Linked DNA regions of Homo sapiens: regions 1, 2, 3, 4 and 5 are each reported to be linked to region 6. The links are microRNA targets in miRTarBase. Many come from high-throughput screens and were not tested one by one. Region 6 holds a microRNA gene; each other region holds the end of a gene's coding sequence. Distances are between the middles of the regions.
What was found. Region 6 holds the annotated microRNA hsa-miR-6805-3p (UUGCUCUGCUCCCCCGCCCCCAG, at 1,544-1,566, shown strand). A microRNA usually pairs through its seed, bases 2 to 8, with sites in the 3' UTR of a target mRNA and lowers its output. Matches are read on the target gene's strand: a 7mer-m8 pairs with bases 2 to 8, a 7mer-A1 pairs with bases 2 to 7 and ends in A, and an 8mer does both.

Region 1: the mRNA of FFAR2 is a reported target of hsa-miR-6805-3p. Seed matches in the 3' UTR shown: 8mer at 3,658-3,665.
Region 2: miRTarBase lists GPR155 as a target of hsa-miR-6805-3p. Seed matches in the 3' UTR shown: 8mer at 4,051-4,058 and 8mer at 3,185-3,192.
Region 3: miRTarBase lists PLEKHM3 as a target of hsa-miR-6805-3p. Seed matches in the 3' UTR shown: 7mer-A1 at 2,103-2,109.
Region 4: miRTarBase lists RAB11FIP1 as a target of hsa-miR-6805-3p. Seed matches in the 3' UTR shown: 8mer at 3,138-3,145 and 7mer-m8 at 2,740-2,746.
Region 5: miRTarBase lists RMND5A as a target of hsa-miR-6805-3p. Seed matches in the 3' UTR shown: 7mer-m8 at 1,976-1,982.

What each region holds. Positions count from the first base shown.
Region 1 is chr19:35,449,780-35,454,867 of GRCh38, reverse strand. It overlaps FFAR2 (free fatty acid receptor 2), which reads right to left. Exons shown (of 2, transcript NM_001370087.1): 2 at 3,101-5,088. The coding sequence ends at 4,161. Among named protein-coding and RNA genes, the nearest start is that of FFAR2, 4.1 kb to the right of the region's middle.
Region 2 is chr2:174,431,451-174,436,530 of GRCh38, forward strand. GPR155 (G protein-coupled receptor 155) reads right to left here. Exons shown (of 16, transcript NM_152529.7): 16 at 121-4,966. The coding sequence ends at 4,666. Among named protein-coding and RNA genes, the nearest start is that of SCRN3, 38 kb to the left of the region's middle.
Region 3 is chr2:207,823,893-207,828,980 of GRCh38, reverse strand. It overlaps PLEKHM3 (pleckstrin homology domain containing M3), which reads left to right. Exons shown (of 8, transcript NM_001080475.3): 8 at 485-5,088. The coding sequence ends at 662. Among named protein-coding and RNA genes, the nearest start is that of FZD5, 57 kb to the right of the region's middle.
Region 4 is chr8:37,858,117-37,863,197 of GRCh38, forward strand. RAB11FIP1 (RAB11 family interacting protein 1) reads right to left here. Exons shown (of 6, transcript NM_001002814.3): 6 at 502-4,997. The coding sequence ends at 4,779. Among named protein-coding and RNA genes, the nearest start is that of BRF2, 11 kb to the left of the region's middle.
Region 5 is chr2:86,773,145-86,778,144 of GRCh38, reverse strand. It overlaps RMND5A (required for meiotic nuclear division 5 homolog A), which reads right to left. Exons shown (of 9, transcript NM_022780.4): 9 at 104-4,797. The coding sequence ends at 4,734. Among named protein-coding and RNA genes, the nearest start is that of CD8A, 15 kb to the left of the region's middle.
Region 6 is chr19:55,386,677-55,391,764 of GRCh38, forward strand. It overlaps MIR6805 (microRNA 6805), which reads left to right and starts at 1,505; the gene lies at 1,505-1,566. It overlaps RPL28 (ribosomal protein L28), which reads left to right. Exons shown (of 5, transcript NM_000991.5): 3 at 1-17; 4 at 1,254-1,372; 5 at 1,567-5,088. The coding sequence ends at 1,656.

The sequences.
Region 1 (5,088 bases), 20 Mb from region 6:
TAAAACAAGGAAAGGGTGAAGCAGCTTTTCATAAAGCATGCCCGCCAGAGTGCCATGTTTACTGTGGCCATGGCAACACCTGGGCATTACCACCCCTTTCCATGGCAATGACCTGACAACCCAAAAGTTACTACCCTTTCCTTAGAAATTTCTGTGTTAACTGCCCCTTAATTTGTGTGCAATTAAAAGTAGGCAAAAATATGACTGCAAAACTGCCCTGAGCTGCTACTCTCTGCCTGTGGGGTAGCCCTGCTCTGCAGGAGCAGTCACGGAGCTGCAACAGGGCTGGAGCTGTAACAGGGCTGCTTCAACAAAGCTGTTTTCTTTCACCACCGGCTAGCCCTTGAATTCTTTCCTGGGCAAAACCAAGAACCCTCATGGGCCAAGCCCCACTTAGCACACCTGCTCTGCCTCAGTATCATCAACTTGTCTAGACATTATTTCTTTTCTTTTTATTTTTGAGACAGAGTTTTGCTCTTGTCGCCCAGGCTGGAGTGCAATGGCGTGATCTCGGCTCACTGCAACCTCCGCCTCCCGGGTTCAAGCAATTCTCCTGCCTCAGCCTCCCAAACAGCTGGGATTACAGGCATACGCCACCATGCCCAGCTAATTTTTTGTATTTTTAGTAGAGATGGGGTTTCACCGTGCTGGCCAGGCTGGTCTCGAACTCCTGACCTCATGACCTGCCCATCTTCGCCTCCCAAAGTGCTGGGATTACAGGCGTGAACCACTGTGCCTGGCCAACATGATTTCTTTTCATGTAATCCAATCAAATTAGCTTTTGTGGCAGCTGTAATACATCACAGACTCATAGTGCATGTACAGTCAGCTGAGAATCCCAGATTTTTTAAAACATATTACTGCCATGCTATCCGTAGTTGACTACCTACTATGTTATTTCTATTTTTTTTTTTTTTTGAGACATTCTCTCTCTGTTGCCTAGGCTGGAGTGCAGTGGCACGTTCTCAGCTCACTGCAACCTCTGCCTTCCAGGTTCAAGCGATTCCCATGCCTCAGCCTCCCGAGTAGCTGGGATTACAGGTGCCTGCCACCGTGCCTGGCTAATTTTTTGTATTTTTAGTAGAGATGGGATTTCACCATGTTGGCTAGGCTGATCTTGAACTCCTGATCTCAAGTGATCTGCCCATCTCGGCCTCCCAAAGTGCTGGGATTACAGGCATGAGCCACCATGCCCAGCATTATTTCCACTATTTTTAATGTTTACTTATTATATTTCTAATAAGTGAGGGTACATCTGTGTACATGGATTTATATCTTAGAACTACTTAATATTCTATGATTTCTCAGCAATTTTATTCATAGAGTCTTATTTTAATCCACAGAATAATCTTGGGAGGTATGTAGTATCCTAATCACTATGATTTAGAAATAGAGGCTGGAGGAGGTGGCTTGCTTCAGGCCATCCATTTAGTAAGTGGAATGGACACTGAATTCAGGGTTCTTATGGCACCTGTCCAGTCTTCTTTTGAAGGAGGAAAATAGAAAATGAGCTTTCAGTTCAGTGGGACTAATAAGGAAAGGTTTTCTGGAGAAAGTGAATATTGAGTGGATTTTTGTAAGTGAAGAAGAGGCAAGCACCAGAAGATGGGGGAGGGCCAGGTGTGGTGGCTCACATCTGTAATCCCAACACTTTGGGAGGCCAAGGCAGGAGAATCACTTGAGGCCAGGAGTTCAAGACCAGTCTGGGCAACACCCCATCTCTACACAAAATAAAATAAAATAATTAGCTGAGTGTGGTGGTGTACACCTGTAGTCCCATCTACTTGGGAGGCTGAGGCGGGAGGGTGACTTGAGCCCAGGAGTTCGAGGTTGCAGTGAGCCATGATTGTGCCACTGCACTCCAGCTTGGGCAACAGAGTGAGACCCCAACTCTAAAAACAAACAAACCAACAAAAAAACAGGTAGAAGAATGTGGGATTGAGGTGAGGGGGGATGAATAAGCAGGCAAGGTTTTTGAAGAACAAGTTCTTGGACAGATTTGGCTTCTGAGATAAGACAGCGATTCGCGACCCCAGCTGGCCACCTGGGGTGCTTTTTTGAAAAGCTCTCTTGCTGGGGCCCCACCTGCAGAGATTCTGTCAGTAGGTTGGAGGTGGCTCTCTGTATTATTTTCACACCTCCACATGTAATTCTGATGTACAGCCTGGGTTGCAAACTACTAGGTTAGGGGCTGGAGGTCATTTAACTAGAGAGAATGGTCTAGGAGTCCTTATTGTGGAAAAATGAGCTAGGCAGGTAGAACTGGAAGGGGAGAGAGAGGACAAAGCAAGGAAAAGAATGGTACAATATGAGTTCCTTGGGGGAAGCACTTTTTTTTTTTTTTTTGGAGACAGAGTCTCGCTCTGTTGCCCAGGCTGGAGTGCAGTGGCGCAATCTCGGCTCACTGCAACCTCTGCCTCCCAGGTTCAAGTGATTCTCCTGCCTCAGCCTCCTCAGTAGCTGGGATTACAGGCACGCACCACCATGCCCGGCTAATTTTTTTTGTCTTTTTAGTAGAGATGGGGTTTTACCATGTTAGCCAGGCTGGTCTAGAACTTCTGACCTCAGGCGATCCTCCCGCCTTGGCCTCCCAAACTGCTGGGATTACAGGCATGAGCCACTGTGCCCAGCCGGACGCATCTTTTTAAATTAAATTTTTAAAATTGAGAGACAGGGTCTCACTGTGTTGCCCAGGTGGGTCTCCAACTCCTGGGCTCAAGTGATCCTCCCACCTCAGCCTCCCAAAGTGCTGGGATTACAGTCATGAGCCCCTGCAACTGGCCAAGGAAACATTTTGATGATAGGAAAGCTCTGCAGGTTTCTGAGCAGGAGGGTGACATGTTTTAAGGCCCTGTGGCAGACAGATGACTGTGAATCGGAATCACCCTGCATCCTTTCTAAGTCCGGACTCTCTATTCATCCCTCGAAAGACGATTCCGTCAGTGCTCTCACTTCCTTTGCCCACACCACCTCTTTATCTTAAGATGTTTCTGTGGTTTCAGATGCATCACTTTTCCCCTTTGCTGCTGAATCTGGTTCTCTCTCCTATTTTTGCCCTCCCTGTGCTTGCAGCAGTGTTACAAAAATTGTGGACATTCACTTCAGAGTTTTATCATCTTTATTTTCAATTTGCTAGACCAGGTTGCTTTCCCCTGTATGAGGGAGTGCCAATCTCTGATTGCTGGGTACCAAACCACATCCTGGCCTGTGTGGGGTACCATGGAGGAAGGAGATAAGACCCAGACCCCTGGCAGCTCCCAGTTTAGCAGGGGAGACAAGACAACACATGAAAACAAACAGAGCACATCAAAAAGGCAACAGGTCAAACCAATGCAGGGAAACCCCTATCATTAAAGGTCTAAGCCCTGAGGCCTCCCTGCTCATCTCCAGGCTCAGAACCTTTCTGAGTCTTCTTTGACCTCATTTAGTATTTCTCTTCCATCTCTCTCTTGTTGGTTTATCTCCAGGATCAACCGCTAGAGCAGTGTCTAGGTGTTGCTTTGAAGCTTGTATCGAGATTTCTCTAGGACTCTCTGCTTCAGCCTGGCCATCCCCAACTACCAGCCACATCACAAGGACTGGACTTGTGTTAGCTACGCTGCTTCTCCAGCCTGAAGGTGCTTCTTTTTTTTTTTTTTTTTTTTTTTAAATGGAGTCTTGCTCTGTCGCTAGGCTGGAGTGCAGTGGCGTGATCTCAGCTCACTGCAACCTCCAACTCCCGGGTTCAAGGATTCTCCTGCCTCAGCCTCCAGAGTAGCTGGGATTATAGGCATGTGCCACCATGCCCAGCTAATTTTTTTGTATTTTTAGTAGAGACGGGGTTTTCCCATGTTGACCAGGATGTTCTCAATCTCCCGACCTCAAGTGATCCACCTGCCTCAGCCTCCCAAAGTTCTGGGATTATAGGCATGAGCCACCACACCCGGCAGGTGCTTCTATACCTAACTACTTCTTCGTGCATCTCTGACTTATGCTCCTTTGAGTAGGACAATTCAGTCAGGAAGGGATACCAAGCTGGTGAAAGGCATTTTTTTCAAAGTCGCAGTCCTGGGCTGGGTCTAAGGATTTCTGAATCTGGATGGGAGCCTTCCTGCTCCGCCTCTCCCAGGCTTCCCAGCTCCTGTGTAACCCAGGCGACCTCTGAAGGTCCAGGGAAACTGCTACTCTGTAGTGAAGTCCGAACTTGGCATCCCTTCTCCTTGACCCACACCCCTGTCCTCATTTGTCCCCTCTGCTGTGTCTTTGCCTCTGCGTCCCAACAGGGAGGAGCCCTGATTCCGCAGCACCTGCAGCCCTCTCCCAAATGCCCTGCGCACCACTGAAGAAGAGAAATAGAAGAGCAGGGGGTCCAGACTGGCGTTGAGTGAACTGAACACCACGGCTATTGACCGCCACCAGGGGCTTTTTCTCTGGTGATACCCCACCAGGTGGGACACGTTGTAAGGTCCGAAGCACACCAGGAAATTGAGCAGCGTCACCACAGCCAGCCCCACGGCTCGGCGCCGCCTCTGGGCCCCCACAAGGGGCTGGGAGAGCATGATCCACACAAAACGCCAGTAGCAGAAGATGGTGACTGCCATGGGGATGAAGAAGAGCACCAGGCACAGCTCCAGCCGCACGGGCAGCACCACGTCCAACTGGTTATCGGTGAAGTTCTCGTAGCAGGTAATTTCATTGCCACTTCTGACCTGCTCAGTCGTGTTCAAGTATTGAACGATGATCACGATGGTGCAGTGACCAAAGGACATAACCCAGGCCACCAGAGCTGCAATCACTCCATACAGAGGCCGGCGGGAGAGCTTGTACTGCACGGGGAAAGCCACTCCCAGGTAGCGCTCGATGCTGATGCCCGCCAGGAGCCACGTGCTGCAGTAGATGCTGCTGTAGAAGCCAAAACTCGTGAGGGCGCAGACGACCTTGGGCAGGTACCAGCGGAAGTTCGACGCAGCCTCGATGATCTTGAAGGGCAGCAGCAGCAGCAGGAGGAGGTCGGCCAGCGTCAGGCTCAGCAGGAGGATGTGCACAGGTGCAGGCTGGGGCTGGCGGATCCGCCCCACAAAGGCCCGCAGGGCCAGGAGGTTGGCAGGG
Region 2 (5,080 bases), not on the chromosome of region 6:
TATGTTAATCATGAATCAAAAGTTTTGCTTTAGAAATAACTACATAGCCTAGAATTTTGGAGAGTTAGTTTCTTCTTGTAAAGTGTGCCCAAAACAGGTCTACAGAGCTAATGTTTTCTTTTTCATTAATTATTTCAACCTTTTATCATACCAATTGCAGAAATTTATAATCTCATCTTTTCTTGAAGAATGATGATAACATTTATGATCCTGAACTTTTCTCCAGCCATCACTCATGACAGGACTACCTATGTGCAGTGGCCTAAAGTAATTTAATATTTTACATGATGAGATATGAAGGGGCAAACACTAAGAGCCGCATTCTGCTGCGTAACAAACATATAAAACACTAGTTTCACATTTTTCTTGCTTTAGAAATTTACTGACCATTAATTGTTGTTCTCAAAATGCCAAATACACTTTGTCTTAGTCTAAAAATATTGAAAGCTAAGCACAAGCTAGGCATGGAGTTACTCATTGAGAGTTAAGAAAACAATTGACTATGCTGAAGAAAAAGAGATAGGTTTTAATCAAAATTTTATCATTTTTCTAGCTGTCACTCTACATATTGGAAATGATGAAATGTATGAAAAGGACTCAATGTCATATTGACTCATTCATAAAAGTGTTTATAGAATGCGTAATTGGGAAACCCTGTTTGCAGAGCCCAGAGTCATGAAGAACAGAACTCAGGAAACCCATTTAAGAAAACATTGAGAATGTATAGAAAAGACCTCTATGATGGCTTCTGCATTATTCAGATTACTCAAAGAAAAGATGTCAGTAATGCAAGTTAAAATAGGTATTTTATTGAGAAACTTGCTTTGTCAGTGAGAAAGTTAACAGTTACAAATATTTTCATTTAATAAAATTAGCATATTTTTAATTCTAAAAATGTCTCTTAAAAGCCTTTATTATCTGAAACTGCAGATCATTCTGATCCAGGGTTTTCTTTTAGGGTCTCCCATGGAAAAAGATATTGCAGATTCCATTCATGCAAATAACAGAAGTAGTATGACTTGTTCACAAACAAATTCTCCACTTGAGTTTCAGTTGTCTGCATGCATGTGAATTAACATCTTTATTACTGTAACTAGAAAAATCTCCTGGTAACAGCAATGAGGCCTTAGACTTACCCTTGAGCATTCAGAGTCATAATATGGTCTTATTAAAAAAGGAAAGTTCCGCAGCAAGACAATTCAGCTTAAAAACATCCCCATTCCCTAATCACAACTTAAAATTGGTATAGGTTAATAGTACACTAAAGTATAATTTATTTGTTATTAATAAATATACTAGGCTTCCATGCAGGTTTTTTTTTTTTTTTTTTTGCGATGGAGTCTCACTCTGTCGCCCAGGCTGGAGTGCAGTGGCGCGATCTTGGTTCACTGCAAGCTCCGCCTTCCGGGTTCATGCCATTCTCCTGCCTCAGCCTCCCGAGTAGCTGGGACTATAGGTGCCCACCACCACGTCTGGCTAATTTTTTGTATTTTTAGTAGAGACGGGATTTCACCGCATTAATCAGGGTGGTCTCGATCTCCTGACCTCGTGATCCGCCAGCCTCGACCTCCCAAAGTGCTGGGATTGCAGGTATGAACCACCGCGCCTGGCCCCCATGCAGGTTTTTAAAAAACTGTTTATTTGTTGCATTAAAAGGGCAATGACTCTAACCCTATAAATTATTTTATAAATAACTTTTTTACATGAGACACTTAAAGTATAATTAAATAAATATCTGAAACGTTTAAAATAAGTTAAACTAGCACTGACATCTAATAATTAAGATGCTCAAAGGTCATCTAAATAGATCTCTTTAATTTACTGAAGATAAAGTTTACCTGAAGATGCTATGGTCTAAATGTCTGTGTCCTCCTAGAATTCTTATGTTGAAACCTAATCCTCAATCATGTTTAACATCTGTTTTTCACAGGAGAATAGAAGCTCCATGAGGATAGGAATCATATTTGTTCCAACTGTTGTGTGCTCAGTGTTCAGATTGTGTCTGGAACATGCTAGATGCTCGATAAGTTATTTGTTAAATGAACATTCAAGTACTGATGGGAAGAATTTACACAGCCCCACTTCTCTGCCTGTAGAAATGTAAAGTTGAAGTCACATCCTCAATGTGTTAGTATTAGGAGGTAGGGCCTTTGAGAGGTTATTAGATCATGAGGGTGGAGCCTATTGAGTGGAATTAATGTCCTTATAAGGGGCCAATGAGACCAGTTCTTCCCATCTACCATGTGGGGACACAGCAAGAAGGTACCATCTATGAGCCAGAAATTTGCCTTACCAGACACTAGATCTGTTAGTGCCTTAATCTTGGACTTCACAGCCTCCAAAACTGTGAGAAATAAGTTTATGTTGTTTATAAGCTATCCAGTTTATATTTTGTTTTAGTAGCTAAAATATTAGACTAAGAGAAAAGGCAACATTTAGTAATTTTAAAAATTATATATTTTTATACATGGACACTTTAAAAAGACTAAATTCTAAATGTAATCTTTAGAATTTTTTTTTTTTTTTCTGAGACAGAGTCTCACTCTGACACTCAGGCTGGAGTGCAGTGGCACGATCTCAGCTCACTGCAACCTCTGCCTCCTGGTTTCAAGCAATTTTCCTGCCTCAGCCTCCTGGGTAGCTGGGATTACAGGTGCACACCACCACACCTGGCTAATTTTTTTTTTTTTTTTTTTTTTTAGTAGAGATGGGGTTTCACCACATTGGCCAGGCTGGTCTCGAACTCCTGGGCTGAAGCAATTCACCTGCCTCGGCCTCCCAAAGTGCTGGGATTACAGGTATGAGTCACCATGCCCAGCCTAGGTTTAGAATTTTTAAATATTGGCTTGAACTATATAGTTTTTTTTTTTTTAACTACAGGGAATAAAGTAGAAGTTATCCTGCATTACGATGCTTTGTTCAAACACAGAAATGATACATCATATGGCAATAATTTTGTTGATAAAATTCAAATTAATCTACTCAAATTATTATTTGTAGCATGAAAGTTAAAGATCAGATTGTACTTCTGCAGGACTGTGGAGATAATAATACATATGGAGGTTCTTATTCCTTTCCTTAATGGCATAGATTAGTAATTTGGGTAGAAAAGAAAAGACAAACTTTAAAAAAAAATAGTGCCTCTAGGTTTTTTTTGCTTGTTTTTTGTTTTTGAGACAGGGTCTTGCTCTGTCACCCAGGTTGAAGTGCAGTGATGTGATCTTGGTTCACTGCAACCTGCGCCTCCCAGGCTCAAGGGGTACTCCCACCTCAGTCTCCAAAGTAGCTGGGACTACAGGCATGCACTACCACACCTGGGTATTCTTTTTTCTTTTTCTTTTTCTTTTTTTTTTTTTTTAGTACAGACCGGGTTTCACCACGTTGCCCGGGCTGGTCTTGAACTCCTGACCTCAAGCGATCTGCCCGCCTCAGCCTCCCAAAGTGCTGAGATTACAGGCGTGAGCCACTAAGCCTAGCCCTCTAGTTTTTAAATGAGTACTATTTGTCAAGGAAATGGAAAAAAGAAAAAGAACCTCTTATTAGAATCATTAAAATTCTTTTTCAAGAGATGCTATCAAAAAATATAAAGTTGTCATAATTTAAGGTCCATCTCCTGCTAGTAATACACTTGCCAAATTTGATAATTTATAGGAACAGTTAATAGGATATTAATTTTGAAATTATAGTAAACAGTTGCAGAAAGCAATGATTATATAATGTTGGCATATTCGTATTATTTATAGTACAGTTGACCCTCCATATGCACAGGTTCCACATCCATAGATTCAATCAACCGCAGATAAAAAGATGTAGTCAGGCTTAACAATGGTTGCATCTGTAGTGAACATGTACAGACTGTTTTTCTTATTGTTATTCCCTAAACAATACAGTATAACAACAACTATTTACATAGCATTTACATTGTATTAGGCATTATAAGTATCTAAAGATGATTAAACTATATGGGAGAATGTGCATAGGTTATATGCAAATACTACACCATTTTATTAATTATTTTATTTTATTTTATTTTATTTTTGAGATAGAGTCTTGCTCTGTTGCTCAGGCTGGAGTGCAGTGGCACGATCTCGGCTCACAGCAACCTCTGCCTCCCAGATTCAAGCGATTCTCCTGCCTCAGCCTCCTGAGTAGCTGGGATTACAGGCACCCGCCACCACACCCAACTAATTTTTTGTATTTTATAGTAGAGACGGGGTTTCGCCATGTTGGCCAGGCTGGTCTTGAACTCCTGACCTCAGGTGATCCACCTGACTCGGCCTCCCAAAGTACTGGGATTACAGGCGTGAGCCACCATGCCCGGCCTACACCATTTTATATAAGGGACTTGAGTATCCTCAGATTTTGGGATCTTCAGGAGTCCTGGAACCAATCCCCTTGGATACTAAAGGATGACTATATTATATTCATTATCAGAACTTTAATTTGGTTTTCTCTTTTTCCTAAGTCAGCTTCCTATGTGTTTTACATACATGTAAAATCACAGACCCTGCGCATGTGGTGGGAGCACATCTTTTCACATTTTACAGAAGAGACAACTGAGGCTCAGAGAGGTTGCCTCTGTTAACTTGCCCAAGGTCACCCAGCTAAAAACTAATGAATACGCGGCTAGAATATGATTCCATGTAGGGTTCTCCCCTGCATAATTTAGGTCTTAGGGGAATGTGAGGGTGGGGATGAATGCTCAATTTCTTTATATCTTTCCTGTTGGAGAGTGTTTGCATTAATAGCAGGAGGACTCTGTTCAGGACTCTTTTGAAGAAATCTGTAAAACAAGTACTCATCCCGGAATTCATACTCGTTGGTAATATGTTGGATGACTCCCCCTTGTACCAGCCTGTCTCCGTATATCACAGCTTCACCACGGTCGGAGGCAAGGCCGACTTCAATTAGCCAGCTCACCAGGTCACAGCCACAGAAAGTTCCAGCAGAAGTCTTTGCACCACACCTGTGTCAAAGGAATGATTCACCCATATTTTCTGTAAATCTGGTATCAGCACTGCATGATAGAGGACAAGCAAGAAAAAATAGAAGGAAACAAGGAAAGACAGCATGGTAGTTA
Region 3 (5,088 bases), not on the chromosome of region 6:
CTGTCAAATAAAGGCAGCTAGTTAACAGAGAACCACTTAGCTCGTGTTAACTGATGTAGAAAGCTGCCTCGCCATGGATGTAACGCTGTGGCTGTCACTGGTGTGCCGAGCGTTTTCACGAGGCACTCCCCTCTCATTTTCTGTCATTTCACTCTAGAGTCACTGCCAATTCCCTTCTCAATGGAGAGCTTCTGGTGTTCTGTCCATTGTCACTATAACCAGAATTGCTGGGTGACTGCGGACTCCCCCCCACTCATAAGCCCTAGTTCAGATCAGAAAAGCAAAAATGTTTTTCAAGTGAAATTCAACCTTGAGCATTTTGGAAAAACAAACAGTTCATTTCAGTGAGTCATCTCCCTTCCCATTGGCAGGGTTGTCCAGAACAGTAGATTGTGCCACCAGCTGCACCTGAGGCCACAGGGCTTCCCATTTGTGTCTTGCTGGCTTCAGTCTTGCTCATCATATCCATGGTTGACTTTTGCAGGTGTGAAAGCTGTGGAGCCGTTTTCCATTCTGAATGCAAAGAAAAGTCTGTCCCCTGCCCGAGGTGTGTTCGCCGAGAGCTGCAGAAGAAGCAGAAGTCTTTCTGGCAGAGACTGAACATGGACGAGAGTCTAGAGGAGGCTTGCACCATGTTCGAGCTGTCCTACCAGAACACCTGACTCCAGCCGACCCGAAGGCCAGGGATTCACCAATCAACAATCCATCAGCCCCAGAGCGGCCTCCTAACTAGCCAGTTAGACCCCTTTGGAAGAAGAGTATGTATCCTCTTCAACTAGATATAGATATATATATTTATTTATATATACGCAAATACCTATACGTCCTGTACGTATGCTCTGTGTACATCATTGTCCAGACGATCCACAGAACCTCTGTGGCTCGAGAAACTACCAATAGCTGGATTACACTTAGCCAAGAATTTCAGCTGCTTGCTCCCAGACAAAACGTGGTATACACAATGCTTTATAGTTCAGACTTTTTTTTTCTCTCTGTCTCTCGGTACATTTTATTACCCAAGACACAAAAGGAAGCATTTCCTGCACAAAACAGTGCTTTAGGTTATTTTTGTGTTATTTATTTTTAGCCTTCACAGAGGCTGAGGTAACTGAGGCAGGCACCCATCATCATCTGTTTCATAAGAAAACCTTCAAAACACAAGAGACTGCTGGGTCCTTCCAGGACCTGGTGTCCGTGGCGCTCCCGCCTCAGTTCCTCCTGTGGAGGCGGGGAATCACGTAAGCAGAGCCGATGGCTGGAAACAGGAGCCAAGCCCCCTCTGACAGAAAGCATACACCCCTCATTTATGAGGAGGGCTGGTTCTGGTTTTGAAGTTAATCTCAGAAGTTTTTTTCCTGAGAAGAGAAGAAACCTCTGCGACCAATAACTGCGTGTTGTCGGTCTGTTTTTCGGTACTAATCCCATCACCCACCTAATGATGTGACGCTCCACCGTGTTTTCCAGGCTGTACACATGGCTTTCTTAACAGTTTTCAACGGGTGCCCATGGTTGATATTTATGATTTTTTTCATGATGCTGGCCGGAGGAAATGTCCTGGGGTGGTTGTTAAAGACATCGTCGTGTAGACTGGTAGATAAGGCTATCTAGTAAGTATATTCCCAAAGAGGGTCGTTTTAGTTTCTTTTCTCAGAATCCTGTGGAGGCAGTTCCTACCTATTCATTTTAAGTGCTTTATTTCTCGTTGTTCTTCCTGCACTTTCATTTCGACCTTTGTCAATGTGACCATTCTTGCTTTCTCATTTTTTTGTTTAAAAAATCAGAGTAATGTGGAACTTCAAAATACCAACTTTGGACTATTAAGAAAATACAAACTTACAAGTATAATTAATGAATTAGATCTAATATTATTTAAATAAATATATATATATACACACACATATATAATTGCCACCTTGAAGTAAAACAAAGAGTGCTAAAATAAATAATAGGAGTAAGAAAGAGATCTGCTTTGCTATTTGGCAGGTAGTGTTCTCCAGCTGCAGTGCCCTTGGAAGAGCACGTGGCAGTCACTGTGACCAAAACGGCAGGTAGGACAGCCCTGGGACCCTGACAGCTCCCATTCCTTCCCCTTAACTCTCCCTAGAGCAAGAAAAATATGTTTATAATGGAACAGTTCTCAGTAGACTTTATGAGAAGATTCTGTAGCTTTCGCGCTGAGCAGATGCCTTCTATGTCTTCATGGTTTAGTAGTTTTGCTGCTATTAGGATCAGTGGCTCACAACATACTTGGTACATTCAACCCCATTGCTCCTTTCCCCCACACGCCGCTTCCCCAAGACCCCAACTCATGATACTTCCATCCATCTAGAGATGTGACATTTCAGACTGACTTTTGTGCAGTTAGATGTAAGCATTTTACCTCTCAACCCACACCAGTTCCTTTGGCCCCAGGCCACACATTTCACCTTAATAGCTCAACACCATACATGCATTTATTTTCTGACTATACAGTAGCCGCAACCAAGGCTTGAAAACTTGTTAAAAGGCCAGGGCCCTATTCATGAGACGCCTGACGGTGCCTTTTACCCTTAGAAAAGCAGGTTGACTTTTCCCCCACTCTAGTTAAAGAGAATGTTGCACACAAAAGAAAAAGGGTGGAAAATCTCAAACACTTGGCAACAGGCAAACAAATTTGATCATCTCCTTTCCTCCTCCTCTTGGTAAAATACAGTATTTATATTTTCCAGCCTCAGAGAAGATAGCAGAACATGATCTTTCACAAGAGAATTATAGACCTGCTTATTATAAAACAGATGTGCTCCCATGGCAAAGTGCCTTCTCCCTCCGCCCCCAGCTCCCTGTCACTGTAGCTTACTTTTGCCTTCGCTGTAATTAATGTATCCGTGATTCCAACTGTCAGCGAGGCCATTCCTAGCACACTGCATTTGGAGACCTGAAGTGCAGTGCCATCTCCTCCCCTTGTAACATGTTTGCCCTGCATACAGAATTTCCTCTCCTAGCTCACAGGCACCCAGGGTCATACCTGCCGAGAGTCAAGGGCGAAATTCTGGATCCCCGTTCAAAACATCTTTGTTTTCACCAGTCCCCATTTAGAGGGCCCTGCTAAATACGAGCAGTCCCTGTGAACTCCTAAGGAGGACTTTCCACCCACATCATTTTCTGCTTATTTTCAAAAGGGAAACAAAAAATCGATGTGTTATCACCATCAGCTACCCAGAGCTGGGTCCATGTCCAGCACTCCTGTTTCCTCTCCTTTTCGTACCACCCTGACAGCTTGGTCGGTGCCAGCCACAGGCCTATGACATTCTCTGCCACCACCACCAAAATCTGATAGGACAGAGTGGAGCCAGCTTAGGAGTTGGGTCTGCCATGAAAATTCAAAATTGCTGTTTTCAGCCCAGAATACCTTGGCGCACATGAACGCCCTTACTGTTTTCAACTTTAACAAATTACTTGGTGCACTGTTAGGTAATTGTTCCACTGCTTAGAAACTGTCGAAACAAAAGCAAATCTGTGGATTACCACCTCTTTCAGACCAAACTAATACCTGCTTTTCCTCGTGTTCCATTTTTCATCCCATATTAAATATCTTGCACATAAAACATATGAAAAAATGGCCAATTAATCTCCTGGAGCTGGCAACTGACTCCGGGGAACCGCTTTTTGCTGAAAGGCTCATTCCCTAGTGTATCACTTGAGGAAATCCCTCCTAAAAGTGCCAGAAACTCATGTGTGAGATCGTCCAACCCTGGTGAAATGTTGGCATCTAACCCCGCAGTAAAGAAGCCAGTTCCTAAAATAGACCTCATTTTGCACCGCGGCAGGAAGGCCACAAAGTACTTAAAAAGCCGTCAACTGGAATGGGGGTAGTGTTCTTTCCAGGCCCGCTTTTTCCAAAGTTAAAAGCCTCTTTATATGAAAACCATGTAAACTCTCAGCAGCCCCCTTTGCTTCACTGCCTTTTCTAGGGAGTGCATTAGAGTCATTTTTACGTCTGTAGTGCTAAAGGGTCACCTAGTTAGGAGCTTTAACATCGGATTCGCTGAGAGGGTCATCGGTTTTTGATTCTTCTAGAGTAGGCCTCCACCAAGAAGGGAATACGTCTAATACTTGGGATCTGTGGTTTGCAACACAAGTGGTATCCCTCAGACTCCTGAAAAGGGACTATGCCGTGACTTCCTTCCGGCTGCAGTGAGATCCGAGGTGTTTACACCACCCTAGTTGCCGAATGCAGCCTTTGCTCAGCTAGAGTGTGTCCTCTGACGGAGCCTGGCCTCTGTTTTTGTCTCTGTGTGTTGTGTGTACACACTGAACGTGGACATCGGATAGTTCTTTTCTGTGCCTCCTCAGAGAGGCTTGGCTTCCAAACCTGGGAGTTTGTTCTCTACCCATTGGCTAGAAAAGGCCGTCCATAAATTAGTATATCCAGGTGGGACTAGCACGATGCCACGCACACTGAACATTTTCTGCAGAGGGGCGTTAGCAGTGGAAGTAGAGACACATTCTGGTCCTCCTTTAGAGTCAAGCCAATGCTGTTGCTCGTGTATTTGTGCACAATTATTCATCTCCGTTGATCTGACACACTCTCTTGAAATCACTAGATTATGAAACAGATCTTCACCTCCTGATTCCAATACTGCCTGGTTTCAACACAGGGGTTGTTTTATTTTTTTACTTCTCCTAGTAAATAGAGATGTGTATAATTTTTGCCCATTTTATTTCTTGAGTTGTCTGCACCACTTCTTTTCTTACTCTGAAATAATGTGAAAACGTGAAGTTGGAGCAAGACCTTGAAAGAGCCTCCCTCCTTTGCGTGACCTGAATCGGTAGCGGCACTCTCTGTTTCCCCTGCCTCCGTGTCACTTGTTAGTGATGGGCATTAGGAGCTTCATATGTTGCACACCTTGTATCACTCTTCCGACCCTGAGTCAGGTAGAGCTGTCTGCTCGAGGTCGAATCCAGTGATGGGTGACTAAGCTCTGCTCGGTTAATGTAAACAGACAAGTGTTGATTTCTGTCATGTGGAACGGTGTTTCGACAGTTAAGTCTAGCACCCAGTAGTCTCCTTATTGGTAGACGATTCTAATTTCATTGGATTCAAAAATC
Region 4 (5,081 bases), not on the chromosome of region 6:
TTTTATTAAGAGATTTAATAAATAAAATAAAATTTATTAAGTGTCTTCATGTCACTACACATGGCAGTCGATGTCCACTTGGAATCACCAGGCCTCTCCACCAAAACCAGGGAGGCCTTCAGGGAAGCTCCCCCATCCCAGCCCAGGAGTCTCACAGGCACCGCCTGCCTCTGTCTCTCTACAATGTGACTCATCTCTAAGAGCAAAGGTATCACTTCCATTCCAAGAGGTCTGGGACCTTGGAGTGTGGACCACGTGCACCGCTCGCGGGGCAGGCACACCTCTCACCTCCTTGGGAAAGGCCTGGGGTTTGGAGAGATGAACTCCAGGAGACTCCTGTGCATCCCTAATACCCTCTATTCACACATGGACAAACTAAGTCAACTGAACAAGGACCTGGTTCCCAGATGGGGCAGTTGAGCCCAGCCTGAATTCAACTCATGCCCCCAAAGTGAAGACATCACTCTGTGGGAACCTGTGTGTGTGGTGGGGGTGGGAACTGAGGAAAGACCCTGTCCAAATGCTCAGCCAAGGGTACCGGCTGCAAAGGAAAAGGGGGCAGCACGTTCCAACTCAGTTTCTCTGGCCAGTGCCATGGTCCCTCAGGCCAAGATGAAGGGTGCATCCGAAGGGACCAGACATGTCCGTCCTCTTTGAGAAAAAGGGCCTTGGGACTCCTGGGAACCAGGCAAGATGGCAGCAACAGAAATCCCAGTGAGAGACCCTCATGGGATGAGAAACACTGGTCATCCCCCCACCCCCACCAAGAGAGGTTTTCCAGGAAGACAAAATAAATTTTTATTGCACCCATACCAAACTACAGACACAAATCTTTGAAAGGTAAGTACCATTTTATTTAGTGTTGTAGGAAATGTTGGGTTACTTCTTAAAAACGAAACCAAAGAAATTCAAAAGTCCCAAAGAAAGAAAGCAGGAAATAATAATTCTATAATCCAAAAACGTTGGGCGATCCTTCAGTTGGAGGAAGAGGGCGTCAGTTAAGTAGCTCACACAGTAGATATGGAGACACCATATGGAGATACGGAGTTAAGTTTGGTGGATACTAGGAATTAAGTTCTCCACCTAAGGCAATTAATTTTTCAGCCTTGAGAGATAATTAGTAGTTCTAGAAAAAGAAAAAAAGTTGACTGGGAGAAGGGTGGGAGGGAGGATGGTGCGTCATTTAACATTAAATTGCCTCTCTCTACAGTATGTGGCTGAGCATCATGGACCTTCCTCCCTCTGCCCCGTTGAGCTCCCACTGTTAGCAAAACTGAGAAGCACATGCCTGTGTCTTCTTCATACCGGCATGTGCACACACACCTGTATCTCCTTCATACAGGCATATGCAGAGCCCTCACCAATCGGGGTCCACAGCTGTTCAGTATGGCAAAGGGCAGACTTACTCCTTCATCCACTCTGCTGCCTTGATGAGGTGAACACACTGGAATAAGATGGAGGGCAGGATACCTGCCAAAGCCTGAGGCATGAGATGATCTGAAACAATTGGGCAAAGGCTGGACATTTCAAAAAGCTGACTTCCAACTGCAGTTTATGGGTATAGAATTTGATGCTTCCCTCAAGTCCTGACTGCTCTTTCTGAGGCAGCCAGGCTAGGCCAAGAAATGAGCTGCTCCAGCTTCTCCAGAGCACAGCAGCCTCCCAGGGCCTGTCAGCATCTGCAGCAGCTGGAAGGAGGTCCCAGCTCTTCTGAGACATAGGCCATTTGTAGGATTCTCCAGTGCTCCAATTCACTAATGTCTCCTAATGGCTCAGAACAGGCTAAAGCTTCTCCCAGATAACCCCTCCCCCAAAACTGAGTCCTCAGGGACAGTTGTTAACTGAATGACCTCCAGGTTATCTACTTTGGGAGGTGCAGGAATGCTATAAACTGAATTTTTTCCCAGCAGCAGCAGAAGCCAGGCACCCTTGAGTCAATTGTCCTTCATTGTCCAGAGCTACCAAGTGGCATTTCAGAGCACAGGAATTTACTCCTCCACCCAGATGTCCCTCTCATATGGACTGAGTCACACACCCCAGGTCCTAGCAGCAGACATCTCCAAACCAACATCCTTGTGAACACTGCAGATCTCTACGCCAGCTCTCCAATGGAAGAAGAACCACATAGAGCACACCTGCCCCCCAGGGCACTTGGACTATCACAGTAAAAATACATTTATATCAAGTAAAAAACATAATGCAGGACAAATATATACATGTACCTTTTCTTTCTTTCTTTTTTTTGAGACAGAGTCTCGCCCGTTGCCCAGGCTGGAGTGCAATGATGTGATCTCAGCTCACTGCAACCTCCACCTCCCTGGCTCAAGCGATTCTTGTGCCTCAGCCTCCCGAGCAGCTGAGATTACAGCTGTCTGCCACCACACCCAGCTAATTTCTGTATTTTTTAGTAGAGACGGGGTTTTGCCATGTTGGCCAGGCTGGTCTCGAACTCCTGACCTCAATCAAGTGATTCACCCGCCTCAGCCTCCCAAAGTGCTGGGATTACAGGCGTGAGCCACCGCGTCCAGCCATACATGTACATTTTCAGAGTTCAAGTGAACATACAGTTTTCTTTATAAGTATGTAAATAAATTTCATAGCACTACAAAAATACAAGTCATCTGAGAAGTTTACAGTGGTCCCAGTACTGTAGGAGAGAATTAAATAAAATAAAATAGCTGTAGATAATTAAAAGCTAATTAGATAAATCAAGTTACAGTATCATCCTTCAGATTAAAGTGCTCTGATATAACCAATGCCACAGCAAACGAAATCCTGGAAAGAGATTGCACTGCCAATGATTTTGTCTCTTAACCTCAATGTAACAAGGACACACATAAAAGAGATTCCTGATTTAATAACTGCTATCATCTTCACCCCCAACCACGCTATTAGCCTGTGATATTCTTCCCCTAGGAGAGATGTCAAGATTAGATGAGATTCTATCATAGCCAGGGAAAAAAATGAGAAATACCAGAAACATTCTAATTCCAGTCTTAAGTGAGTAACAACAAAATTACCTGAAAAATCTCAGCTGGTGCTTTTAGCTAAGAAGGAAGCAAGTGCCCTAGTTAAAAAAAAAAAAAGTCTATAAATCTAGTTTTAAAAATACAAATTCAAAAATAAGTATCATCTTCTTGCTCTGCACAGTTTTATAACAAGGGGGTAAAATGCTGGTGAGTCTATTCATGAGGGAAAATGGAAAAAAAGCAACCATTTGAAGGCTGAGGCACCTGTTTTCTACTGACTTTTAACTTTTATTAACTACATTAAGCCCTTCACTACAATTTCCCCAGTATCCCACAAATAATTTGGGTTTCCTTTTGGGCAGGGAGAGAAAGTGTTCAAAGGACAGACATGCAGATGCAGTTCAATCCCTTTGGGGTCCAATCCATGGTCTCCTGTCCCCTGTAGAGTGAAGGGGCTTCTTTTTTTCTTTTTAGTTTTTTTTAAGACAGAGTCTTAAAAAAATTGCCCAGGCTCTTTTTTTAAGAGTCTTAAAAAAACTCTTGCCCAGGCTGGAGTGCAGTGGCACGATCTTGGCTCGCTGCAGCCTCCATCTCCCAAGTTCAAGCAATTCTCCTGCCCCAGCCTCCCGAGTAGCTGGGATTACAGGCACGCACCACCATGCCAAGCTAATTTTTGTATTTTTAGTAGAGATGGGGTTTCGCCATGTTGGTCAGGCTGGTCTCGAACTCCTGACCTCAAGTGATCCACCCTCCTCGGCCTTGCAAAGTGCTGGGATTACAGGCATGAGCCACCACGACTGGCCTGAAGGGGCTTCTTCATCTTGGGGAGTTGGTGGACCCTGTCTCTGCCCCTTACAAGGAGTGTTGCTGAGGAAACCAGAGCACCGAGCAAAGGCACAGGGGGAAAAGGCCAAGCAATCGTATTGACATCATTCCACACCTGGAGAACTGTATTAGCGAGTGCGTGGACCACCCAATCCCCTAGCAAAGCGCTGAATAGGCTGGTCTAGCCAGCAGGAACCTGGCTGTCATAAGAGGAGGGGCTTTCACCAAGTTCCTCAAATTGAATAAAGAGTAATTCTTTTAATTCCTGAATTCTACTTTTCCTATCTCCAGTAGAAGGGCCCTGGATCTAAGCAGAAGGTATTTTAAGGCTAGAGAGTAGTAGAAGTCGATGTTTAGAAAAGGCCGCTTGTTCAAAATCTGAAAGGCATACTCAGAGGCTTTCTCTAAACACCTCTGTTCCCATCAAAAAACAAGACCCAAGTCTGAGAAGCTGGGTAGGTTTACATGGTATCAAAATTTAACATCTGCAGCCAAAAGCCACACCTGAGCTACTCAGAAGCCAAGAAAGTATGTGTATGTAACACAGCACCAATCGCATGGTCCTTTTCTCATTTAAAGCTTTCTCAGGTAAGCTTTAAGAGCTGGAGGATACATACTGAAAAAAAATCTCAGTATGAAAGAAAGAAAACCCCAGTGTTAAAATACATGAATACTTCCTGTGCCATCTGAATCTCTGGCTCAGGATCAGATCTTATGACCACATCTCTGGTGGGCATAAAATATTTACAACCTTGTTAAAGGCACAGTGGCATTTAAAACTAAAGCCTTGGGAATGTACAGTAAAAGATTAATTGTAATCATTAACCTGGCTTCCATTGGTAGAATTCACTCTTGCCGGATAACATGTGAGGGAGATGGTGATTCGGAGCCTGCTGGCTGGTTATCAGGCAAGGCAAGTCCTTGACCCCTGGAGCAGGTGAAAGTGAAGTCACAGAAACGTCTCGGTGTTTTTTTTCTGCTGATTTACATCTTTCCTGCTTTTTTGCCAACCTGAGTCGGGATGCGGAGGATATTGGGGGTTTCTTCCATGACCCTGACAAGCAGGTTGTCAATGTAGTCTTCCAGCTCGCGGACCTGGAACTCCTTCTTGCTTATCGTTTCCTTCTGTTTGAGGACCAGCTGAATCAGCTCATCGTGGGTCAGCTGCGCATATGCAAATGCAGGGTCCGAGGGGCTGTATTTCTTTGGAGGGGGGGAAATAGTTGGGAAAAAGGAGTTATAAAATTAGCACAGAAACCTAAAACCTAAAAGAAGTACAAAGGAGGA
Region 5 (5,000 bases), not on the chromosome of region 6:
GCAAATACAGACAGCAATTTTCTCTTCTCACAGTCAGCACCTCCCTACTCCCTCCCTCATACCTTTGTCACCTGGCACATTTATACAGACTGGTTCCACAAAACACTTTTTAAATGTGCATTTCTTTAATTTTTAAAAATATACACAGGAAAAGCCATGTGTTTTACATAGGAATACACACATTAACAAAGCATTTCTTATAGTTTTCCAAAACTCTATTATATCAGTCCGAAATTTATAAATTAAATATATCAGAATTCTTAAAGTTAAAATGAATTCCCTGAAACTACTGGATATGCTACTTTTTCCAAAATCAAATGAACAGAGGATATGGATGTGGTTTGTGTTAAATAAGGTTTATTGTTAGCTTTATTGCCTATAGTCTATAAGATGCAACTTTACTGTGCCTTTGCAAACAGGATACATTTCTTAAAAAATTGATCAAAATTTTCCATACATATAGCTCTATATGATAGATTACAGTGCAACACTATTCTCGTTACATAATTATAGAAATACTATAGAACCCAAGAGCACGGGGTAAGCAAAATAAATACAATCCTGAGCCATCTGAACAAGATGATTTGATGAATCCTTTAGTGTAAGTTTAGAAAACACAGAGAAGGAAAAAAATACATGCATACTGCAGTCATGAGCAAAATACATCAAACACCTGTTCCTTGCTAGGTGCAGGTGGGGGCAATGGTGAACTTCAGACACATGCACACTCACTCACACTCCCATTTTCTTCTGCTTCCCTCCCAGCCCCAACACATTCATTCCCGCCCCTTCCCAAAAAAAAGATCAGGCACTAAATCCTAGTGAACCCCACAACTGCCTTGCTGGAGAAGGTTAAGTGACTGCTAAAGTAAGAGTGTATGTAGGTCCTCACCCATAACATGAAACAAAGCATGTGCTGTAAGCCAATTCCAGCTGCTTTTGCCTCTTTGGAAGTAAATGAAGCATATGCCCACTACAGCTTGAAACTGCAGTGGAAATGTCTTGAAAACAAAATTTTGTTTCTCTTGCTATGTCTTGAAGTAAAATCAACAGTGGAAAATTCATCCTAAAACTGCCTCATCTGCTATTAAAATACATTTGTCATTCTATTTTTGGTATCTATTCAATTATAGTTCATTAAGAACGGTTCATGAAGCTTGTACCTGCTTATGGTAAACATCAGTGTACCACACAAAACCTGCCACACCTAGACAGGCTTATGAAACACCAAATCTTCTATGTGTTCCTTGCTAACATTCCCTCAAGACCACAGCATTCTAGTGTTACCAGAGATAAAGTACGTATAGTTAAGTGATGAAAGAAAGGTATTTGGTTTGTGTCGTCACCTTATACATCCTAGTGATGAAACTAACCAAACTATGCCTCCATGCCTTCCCTGAAAATAACCTGAGTCGGCTGACGAAACAGACTGAGCAGCGTGGCTCTCAGTCCACTTTATCAGAGGTTGAGCTGGAAAACCAGAGGGCTAATGTAGTCTACCAGCAGCTTGTGCGGATAACCAAGAGTTCTTGGCTGTTGCAGTATCCACTGTCCCAAAGGCTAAGCCACTGAGGTGGAAATCAATCGCAGCATAAAGAAGACTGAACTTAAGCTGCATAACCTGCGAGACTACCTGGAGAGGACAAAAGAGGATCAGGATCCTCATTTCCCACAAAATGTGGTGTGGGTTTTAGTGTCTCTATGCATTAGCTGCTACAGAGAAGTTAACATTTACTTCATAGCTTTCTTATTTTCAATTAAATGCTCACACTCAAAAAATACACACCCTATGAATATGAGGTGGCTCTTTTCTTCAAATTTTTTAAAATAAAGAGGCACCAATACCCGTTCATTTATGTATTAGAAGTCTCGTATAATCACCAATAAAACAGAAATAGCATCTGTGATCACACAACGGAGAAAAAAGATCAAGAGACAACCTTAGCCACTGTAAAACTGTACTTGAACACTCAGATGCTCTGGCTAAGTCAGAATCTAAAGATTTGCTAATAAGGTTTTATTGGTTTAGCATAGTCCCATGGCCTTTGTCTATAACTGATATGTGGAAACGGTTCCCAAGGAAATTTAAGAAACCATTCTGAAATTCTGCCTTTGATGTACATTATAATTAAATGTGACTGTTATAAACGTTGCCTCTATCATATTATCTTTTGTAAAGTGGAGGCAAAGAGAGACAAAAAGCATCCTCCTGGACTGCTGACATGCAGAAAGCATCAGCGATGATAGGGTTGTGACAGCATTTATGGAGTTTCTAGGGCAGGGGGGACAGAATGCTGTATCTCAGCATCTTTGGTTAAGGTCTGGCCTCTTTAAATCCACCTCTCCCTCACATTTAGTCTCTCATGAATTTTAAGTCCATGCACTTGAAGACGGTCACAAGATATAATTTCCATATAATATGTCAGATTCATAAGAGTTTCAGATTTTTGGTCCTCACCCTGCCCAGTGGGAGTACACGGGCCTTACACAGAAAGCTGCAGAGTCCAATGCTTCAGTTAAAGCATGTTCTTTTCAAAGTTTTCTTGAGCTGCACAAAAAACCGTCAACAGTTTTTTGGCTCCCAGCACTGGGAGAGGGATAAAGCTGAGCTCTGGCTTTTGTCCTTTAAAGTGGCCCAAGCCGACTGTATGAAGAGTCTGGTCATCAAACACATTTACCACCAGCCTTCAGAGTACATCTGTCTCATTCAAACCTTACAGGAAGCCTAAACGTTGTGTAGGTGTTTGGGTGGAAAGATAAGAATAAGCTAAACTTGGCCTAAGGAGAAAAAGGGTAAAAAAAAAAAAAAAAAAAAAGAAAGAAAGAAAAATACAACACTCTAGGTTTTAATTCAAAGGAAAAATATATATATAATAAACTGGTTTACACCCTTGGTCAGACTGTTGCCTGGAATTCTCTACCTTCTCTTTCACAGTCCAAAGAGTTTGTCTCTGTTCTCTTCCTTCACTGCTTTAGCAAAGAGAGGGGGAACTTCAAAGAGGATTCCAACAGTGAAGCAGAATCATGGGGCAAAAGTCGCTATGGGGCCAGACTGAGGTTGGACCACACAAGCACTCCAAGCTGGGCCAATCCCAACCGCTGGTGAAGCCGCACAGCACGGAGTAGCCATCCACATAGGCCTGGCCACATGGTACTCAAGCAGAGGTTTTCCACAGTACTCTTTCTCCTCACAAACAAACCCCAGCTCTCCCAGGTAAACATTTTAGAAAAAACATCCAGGCTGGTGTACTACTGTAAAACGCTGCCAGTTTCTAATTAACTTAGCACCAAATCTGTGATTCCCCCTCCCTCAAACCAAGTCCATCTGTAGTTTAAAATGTGAAGTGCCACATTTCTCTTTGCTTCTGTGTTTTCATTTTCTTTGAAAGTATTCCTATTGATGTTCACTCCATGTCAGAAGAAATAAAGTTGCAAAATATTTGGTGATTTCCGTGTAACGTTCTTCTTATACTGAAGTAACTTCATGGGTTTCGGTCAGAATTATGTCCACAGAAGTCTTTTCCATGTAGTTCGTCATACAGAAAGACTCTTACACATGGCTATTTTTGGACAGTGCATAAATGAAGATACCTCACAAGAGAAAAGATCATTATCTGTATCCATCAGAATAATATACAGATTCACAGTCAATGAGATGATACGCTTTGCAGAAGAGAGGCATCAAACATTATACTATTCAAACACAAAAACAGCAATAAACGTTCTGCACTACAGAAAATTTGCTAGCTTCTAACTTTAAGGATTTAAAGTGATGGGTCTGGTAACTGCATTTTAGAACTGGAACATGCTGCTTTCCTTCCAGATACACAATGTTTGATGCTGGTGCACATATACAATACACACATGCACAACACTGTGTCTGCAATGATATAATAGGGCTACCAAGACCAAGAGAGTAAATATCAACTTAAGAACACTTCTAACTTTAGAATTTCATTTTATTAAACATACTTTTAAAACAAGCACCTCTTGGCAATAAAAGCAAAAACAAAAAACAAACAAACAAAAACCCAACCAAACAATAGTACTCCTTCCACTCTATGCTAACGGAAGACTTCTCACACCAGCCAGTTAAACAATGAAATTCTTAAACACGCAGCCTGCTGGGGCTGCATGCAGAGCTAAAATGCAGGTGTGCTGACTTCTTGGAGCTGGAGCAGAGGAAAACATCAAAAAGCATATCTGGAATCTATCACAGCTTTCTTTCTTAAGCAAATAAAAATGCAAATTAGTTTCATAACCACAATTCAATTTATCAAACTTTTTCTGAAGAATTTTCATTTAATTATGTATACATAACAGGAAATAAAACTTTTTCACAAACACTCTCAAGGCTTACGATTATCAAGAAAATGACAAAAGTAAAAGCAGGAGGAATATTAAACACATGGCGGGGAGGTCAATTTCCGTTTCTGCTCTTAAAAAGTAAAAAAATCACCATATAATTAAGTACAAAAACCTGCATTGAATGACAACTGCTGGTGTATTTACTTGATCAGAAATGAAGACCAAGAATATAATAAAGCCCTATGATAATATTCACCGGGAGCACTCCCCTCAGTGTGTGTACACTAACAGGTTGGCAAAGTTTCTGGAGCATTAGCTTATAGAAACACAGGAGTCCTTGGTTAGCTGCATTATATGGAACGTTCTCTTCTGAAATGCACCCACGATTCAGTTTCACTTACAAATTGCAAACTAAAGTTATCTCTTCAGAAAAATATCTGTTTGGCATCTCCTGGACTTTGTTCCATTGGACAGTAGGGACATTTTAATCTAAAGACAAAGAAGAAAACACTGAGTGAAGGAGCAGGCTCAGTACTGTGTATTCAATTTTTATCTAGTTATAGAGTATCTTTAACAATTATACACACATATAAGAACACACAAAAACAAGTCTGTTTGTATTTTGCTTTGAGGATGAACTATGCTTTCCCTTAATATAACTGCCAAGATTTGAAGGGTCACAAATACATACC
Region 6 (5,088 bases):
CATTAAGCGGAGATCCGGTGAGTTTTGTCTGGTTTGGGCCAGAGAGCGGCCCCTTTCCCGGGTCTGGGAGCTGTGATTTTTTACTGTCAGGCAGGAAGAGCGGTAACTGCCATCGCGGCGGGCATCCCTGGCGCCAGGGTGTTGGTCTGGGTACCGGCTTCCCTCTCGGCCGACTTGTCAGCTCTGTGAGCCGCGCGCGTCTGAGCCCGTGTCCTCACCTGTAAAGTGGAGAAATGAAAAAGGACCTGAACTTCCTCGGTGGTTGTTGAGAGTTAAGGCACGGGGTTGATGTTTTCAGATGAAATTCTCAAAGCAAGTCAGGGTGGGGATGGATGGTTTCATCCCACAGGTGGGAAGATTGAGGCACAACAGGGGAGGGGCCCTCGCTACCACACTTAGGAGGGGACAGGCTGGGTTGGTTGCAGCCATTTGATTCCCATTTTGCCTGTGTAGGTTAGAGAAGAGGTCTTGGGGACCCCACTCCATACATTGTGCTGTCAGGTGCAGGCCTTTTTGGGGATTCCCTGAATGTTCGTGTGAGTCGGGGGTCTCTAATGGAGGAGTCCAGCTTCACATGTGTTCTTGACAGGGCTGTATTTTCTTTTTAGAGTGAGTTTTTCTCAGGTCCTTGATTGGAACTGCCTCAGAGCCAAGGGTCCTTTTACTCAGTGGCAGCAACAAACGCAGTCTGTTGGCTAGTGATCCTCCTGTCTCAGGGACACGTAGTCCAGGGAGCAGCCAATTGCTTGGCACTTGGGGACCCCGTTCTGGGGAGTCCTGAAAGCTTTCACCTCTTGGATTGCCGAATACATGGGTGGCCCTTCCTAGACTAAGGGACTGGCCTGAGTGAGGCTGGGCCTCTCAGCCAAGCTGATGTTGAACCACTGCTGTGGGGATGGGCCTGGGGTTCCTGGGAAGCTGTTCATACCCATTGCCAGGAGCGTGGGCTCTGGCTGGACCTGGATCAGATCCTAACTGAAGCGGCAGCTTTCTGGCATGAGAAAGGAGTGTTTTCATGGTGGACAGAATTGGGCTATGAGTGTGGCAGAAGCTGTGTCCTCAGTACTCCGTGATGACGAGTGAGCCTCTGTGAAATGGACAGGTGGGAAAACAGCTACCTGCTGGCCTGCCCAGGCACCCGCCACGGGCCCACGCTGCTCAGCTTCTCAATGTGAGACTGTCCACACCTGCGAGGTGTGCTAAAGGTGCAGGTTAGGTGGACTGACCCCAGGACCTCCCTGACCCCCAACCAGGCCAGCGGAAGCCTGCCACCTCCTATGTGCGGACCACCATCAACAAGAATGCTCGCGCCACGCTCAGCAGCATCAGACACATGATCCGCAAGAACAAGTACCGCCCCGACCTGCGCATGGTGAGCTGGGGTTTGGGGATCAGGCTTGGGGAGACTGGCCAGTGCTGTGGGGAAGGGCCTCCCACTACTGGTTGCAATATGGGCTGGAGAGGGATGGATTCTTGCTTTCAGCCTACTCCCCACACCCAGCATTGGCCTAGGGGGCGGCTTGTGGAGTGTATGGGCTGAGCCTTGCTCTGCTCCCCCGCCCCCAGGCAGCCATCCGCAGGGCCAGCGCCATCCTGCGCAGCCAGAAGCCTGTGATGGTGAAGAGGAAGCGGACCCGCCCCACCAAGAGCTCCTGAGCCCCCTGCCCCCAGAGCAATAAAGTCAGCTGGCTTTCTCACCTGCCTCGACTGGGCCTCCCTTTTTGAAACGCTCTGGGGAGCTCTGGCCCTGTGTGTTGTCATTCAGGCCATGTCATCAAAACTCTGCATGTCACCTTGTCCATCTGGAGGTGATGTCAATGGCTGGCCATGCAGGAGGGGTGGGGTAGCTGCCTTGTCCCTGGTGAGGGCAAGGGTCACTGTCTTCACAGAAAAAGTTTGCTGACTTGTGATTGAGACCTACTGTCCCATTGTGAGGTGGCCTGAAGAATCCCAGCTGGGGCAGTGGCTTCCATTCAGAAGAAGAAAGGCCTTTTCTAGCCCAGAAGGGTGCAGGCTGAGGGCTGGGCCCTGGGCCCTGGTGCTGTAGCACGGTTTGGGGACTTGGGGTGTTCCCAAGACCTGGGGGACGACAGACATCACGGGAGGAAGATGAGATGACTTTTGCATCCAGGGAGTGGGTGCAGCCACATTTGGAGGGGATGGGCTTTACTTGATGCAACCTCATCTCTGAGATGGGCAACTTGGTGGGTGGTGGCTTATAACTGTAAGGGAGATGGCAGCCCCAGGGTACAGCCAGCAGGCATTGAGCAGCCTTAGCATTGTCCCCCTACTCCCGTCCTCCAGGTGTCCCCATCCCTCCCCTGTCTCTTTGAGCTGGCTCTTGTCACTTAGGTCTCATCTCAGTGGCCGCTCCTGGGCCACCCTGTCACCCAAGCTTTCCTGATTGCCCAGCCCTCTTGTTTCCTTTGGCCTGTTTGCTCCCTAGTGTTTATTACAGCTTGTGAGGCCAGGAGTTTGAGACCATCCTAGGCAACATAATGAGACACCGTCTCTAAAATAAAATTAGCTGGGTGTGGTGGTGCACCGCCTGTGGTCCCAGCTCCTCAGAGGTTGAGTAGAGGCTGAGGTGAGCGGAGCACTTGAGCCAAGAGTATGAGGCTGCAGTGAGCCCATGAGCCCCACCACTACACTCCAGCCTGGAAGACACCATGACACACAGTGAGGCCTGGATGGGGAAAGAGTCCTGCTGTTGATCCTCACATGTTTCCTGGGCACCTAACTCTGTCAGCCACTGCCAGGGACCAAGGATCCAGCATCCATGGCACCCCTGGTTCCTGCCATCCTGGGGTACCCGATTCAAAGAAGGACTCTGCTCCCTGTCTGAGACCACCCCCGGCTCTGACTGAGAGTAAGGGGACTGTCAGGGCCTCGACTTGCCATTGGTTGGGGTCGTACGGGGCTGGGAGCCCTGCGTTTTGAGGCAGACCACTGCCCTTCCGACCTCAGTCCTGTCTGCTCCAGTCTTGCCCAGCTCGAAGGAGAGCAGATCTGACCACTTGCCAGCCCCTGTCTGCTGTGAATTACCATTTCCTTTGTCCTTCCCTTAGTTGGGTCTATTAGCTCAGATTGAGAGGTGTTGCCTTAAAACTGAGTTGGGTGACTTGGTACCTGCTCAGGACCCCCCGCACTGTCCCAATCCCACTCAGGCCCACCTCCAGCTGGCCTCACTCCGCTGGTGACTTCGTACCTGCTCAGGAGCCCCCACTGTCCCAGTCCCACTCAGGCCCATCTCTGGCTGGCCTCACTGCGCTGGGACTCCGCCTTCATAAGGAGAGCTCACTGCTCACGTTAGTAGATGGCCCCTTCTCGTGAGGCCTCTCCCCTGGCACCTGCTTCAGTTGTCCTCCACAGCACTGATTTGCAGCCCACAAGCTGGCAGGTTTATCTGTCTCATGTTTGTCTTGTGCTGGTGGGCAAGGGGTTTGTCTAGCACACCAGCATATAATGAGATGCTTGATGAATGGTGCATATTGAATGTATAAAGCCCACCGGTCCTGAGAGTTTGCTCACTGGAGACTTTCTGGAGATGGAGTCTCGCTCTGTTGCCCAGGCTGGCGAGTGCAATGGCGCGATCTTGGCTCACTGCAGCCTCCACCTCCTGGGTTCAAGCGATTCTCCTGCCTCAGCCTCCCGAGTAGCTGGGATTACAGGTGGGTGTCACCACACCCAGCTCAGTATTGTATTTTTAGCAGAGATGGGGTTTCACCATTTTGCCCAGGCTGGTTTGGAACTCCTGACTTCAAATTACCCACCTGCCTCAGCCTCCCAAAGTGCTGGCATTACAGGCGCTCGAGGCTTTCTGATGTGGCTGCTGCTGCTCAGAAGGCCTTGTCCTTAACCACCTCCTTGCCTGCCCTGGAGGCTTGTGCCTCTAGGCCCCACCCCCTGTGGAGTCCTGCTGGCTTTCTCCATCCCTATCTGAATCCTCCCTGCTGTGTGGCCTCCCCTGGTCTCATCCGTAACACAGCCCAGCTTAGTGGGCCTCTGTTCCTGCGGGTGGCCAGCCTGTCTGTGTGGCTGGGCTGGGGAGGCCACGTCTGGTATCTGAATGCTATCGGTGGGTTGGGGTGGAGGAACCAGGAGAGGGCTGGAGGGAGGGAGATGGTCTCAGCCCCACAGAGTTTGGAGTCCTCAGTGTGCTGAGCAAACGTGGAGACACCATTTCCCTCCTCTAGACCTCATCTTGGAGAGAGAGATGTTGGATGGGGCCATCTATTCCAGCTTTATTCACACAAATCATGTCTGTTGGCCTGGAAATTGGAAAACCAGTTAAACCAAAAACATGATATTAAGAAAACAGGCAGGCTCACCATAGTAAAAATGCTGAAAGCCAAAGACAAAATTGGGAGAACAAAAGAAAAGCGTCTTGTCACATACAGAAGGTCCCTGATAAAGTTAGTAGCTGCCCTCATCAGAAACCAGGCCCAGGCAGTGGGGACACATCCAGAGTGCTGAAAGAACCTCCCCCAGGTCATCCTATCCCCAAGAGTGATGCCCGGCAGCATTCCCAGCTCAGGGCTAATGGTTCACGGAAGCCAGGAATCAAACTGCCTGGGTTCCAGTCCCAGCTCTGCCAGTTATGCCCAGCTGTGGGGACTTGGGCAGCTCGTTTAGTAGCACCGTGCCTCAGTTTCCCATATGTAAAAGGCCATTTTGAGTGCCTTTCACAGCCCTGCATAAGGCAGGTGTCTCAGTGTTCACTGCTGTCTCTCCAGCTCTTAGTCCAGTAGCTGCATGGTGAGTGAGCGTAGGGCGCACCCTGGAAGGCTGCCAAGCCCAAAGTTGTGCAGAGCGCTGGGGACTCCAGACTCCCCACAGCAGCAGAGACTCGGGACTGAGGCATCCTCTGTTCACAGGACATGCTGGCATCTACTGGGTCAGGGCTCTGCTGCTCGGTGGCTGTGCAACCTTGGGCAAGTTCCTCAACCTCTCTGTGTCTTCGTACCCTCATCTGTAACATGCGTGTCGATAGACCCTACTACTCAGGGTTGATGAGAAGATTAAATGTGCAAAACCTGCTTGACTGTGCCCACAAATCCTGATTGTAGGAATAAATTAATGACTTTT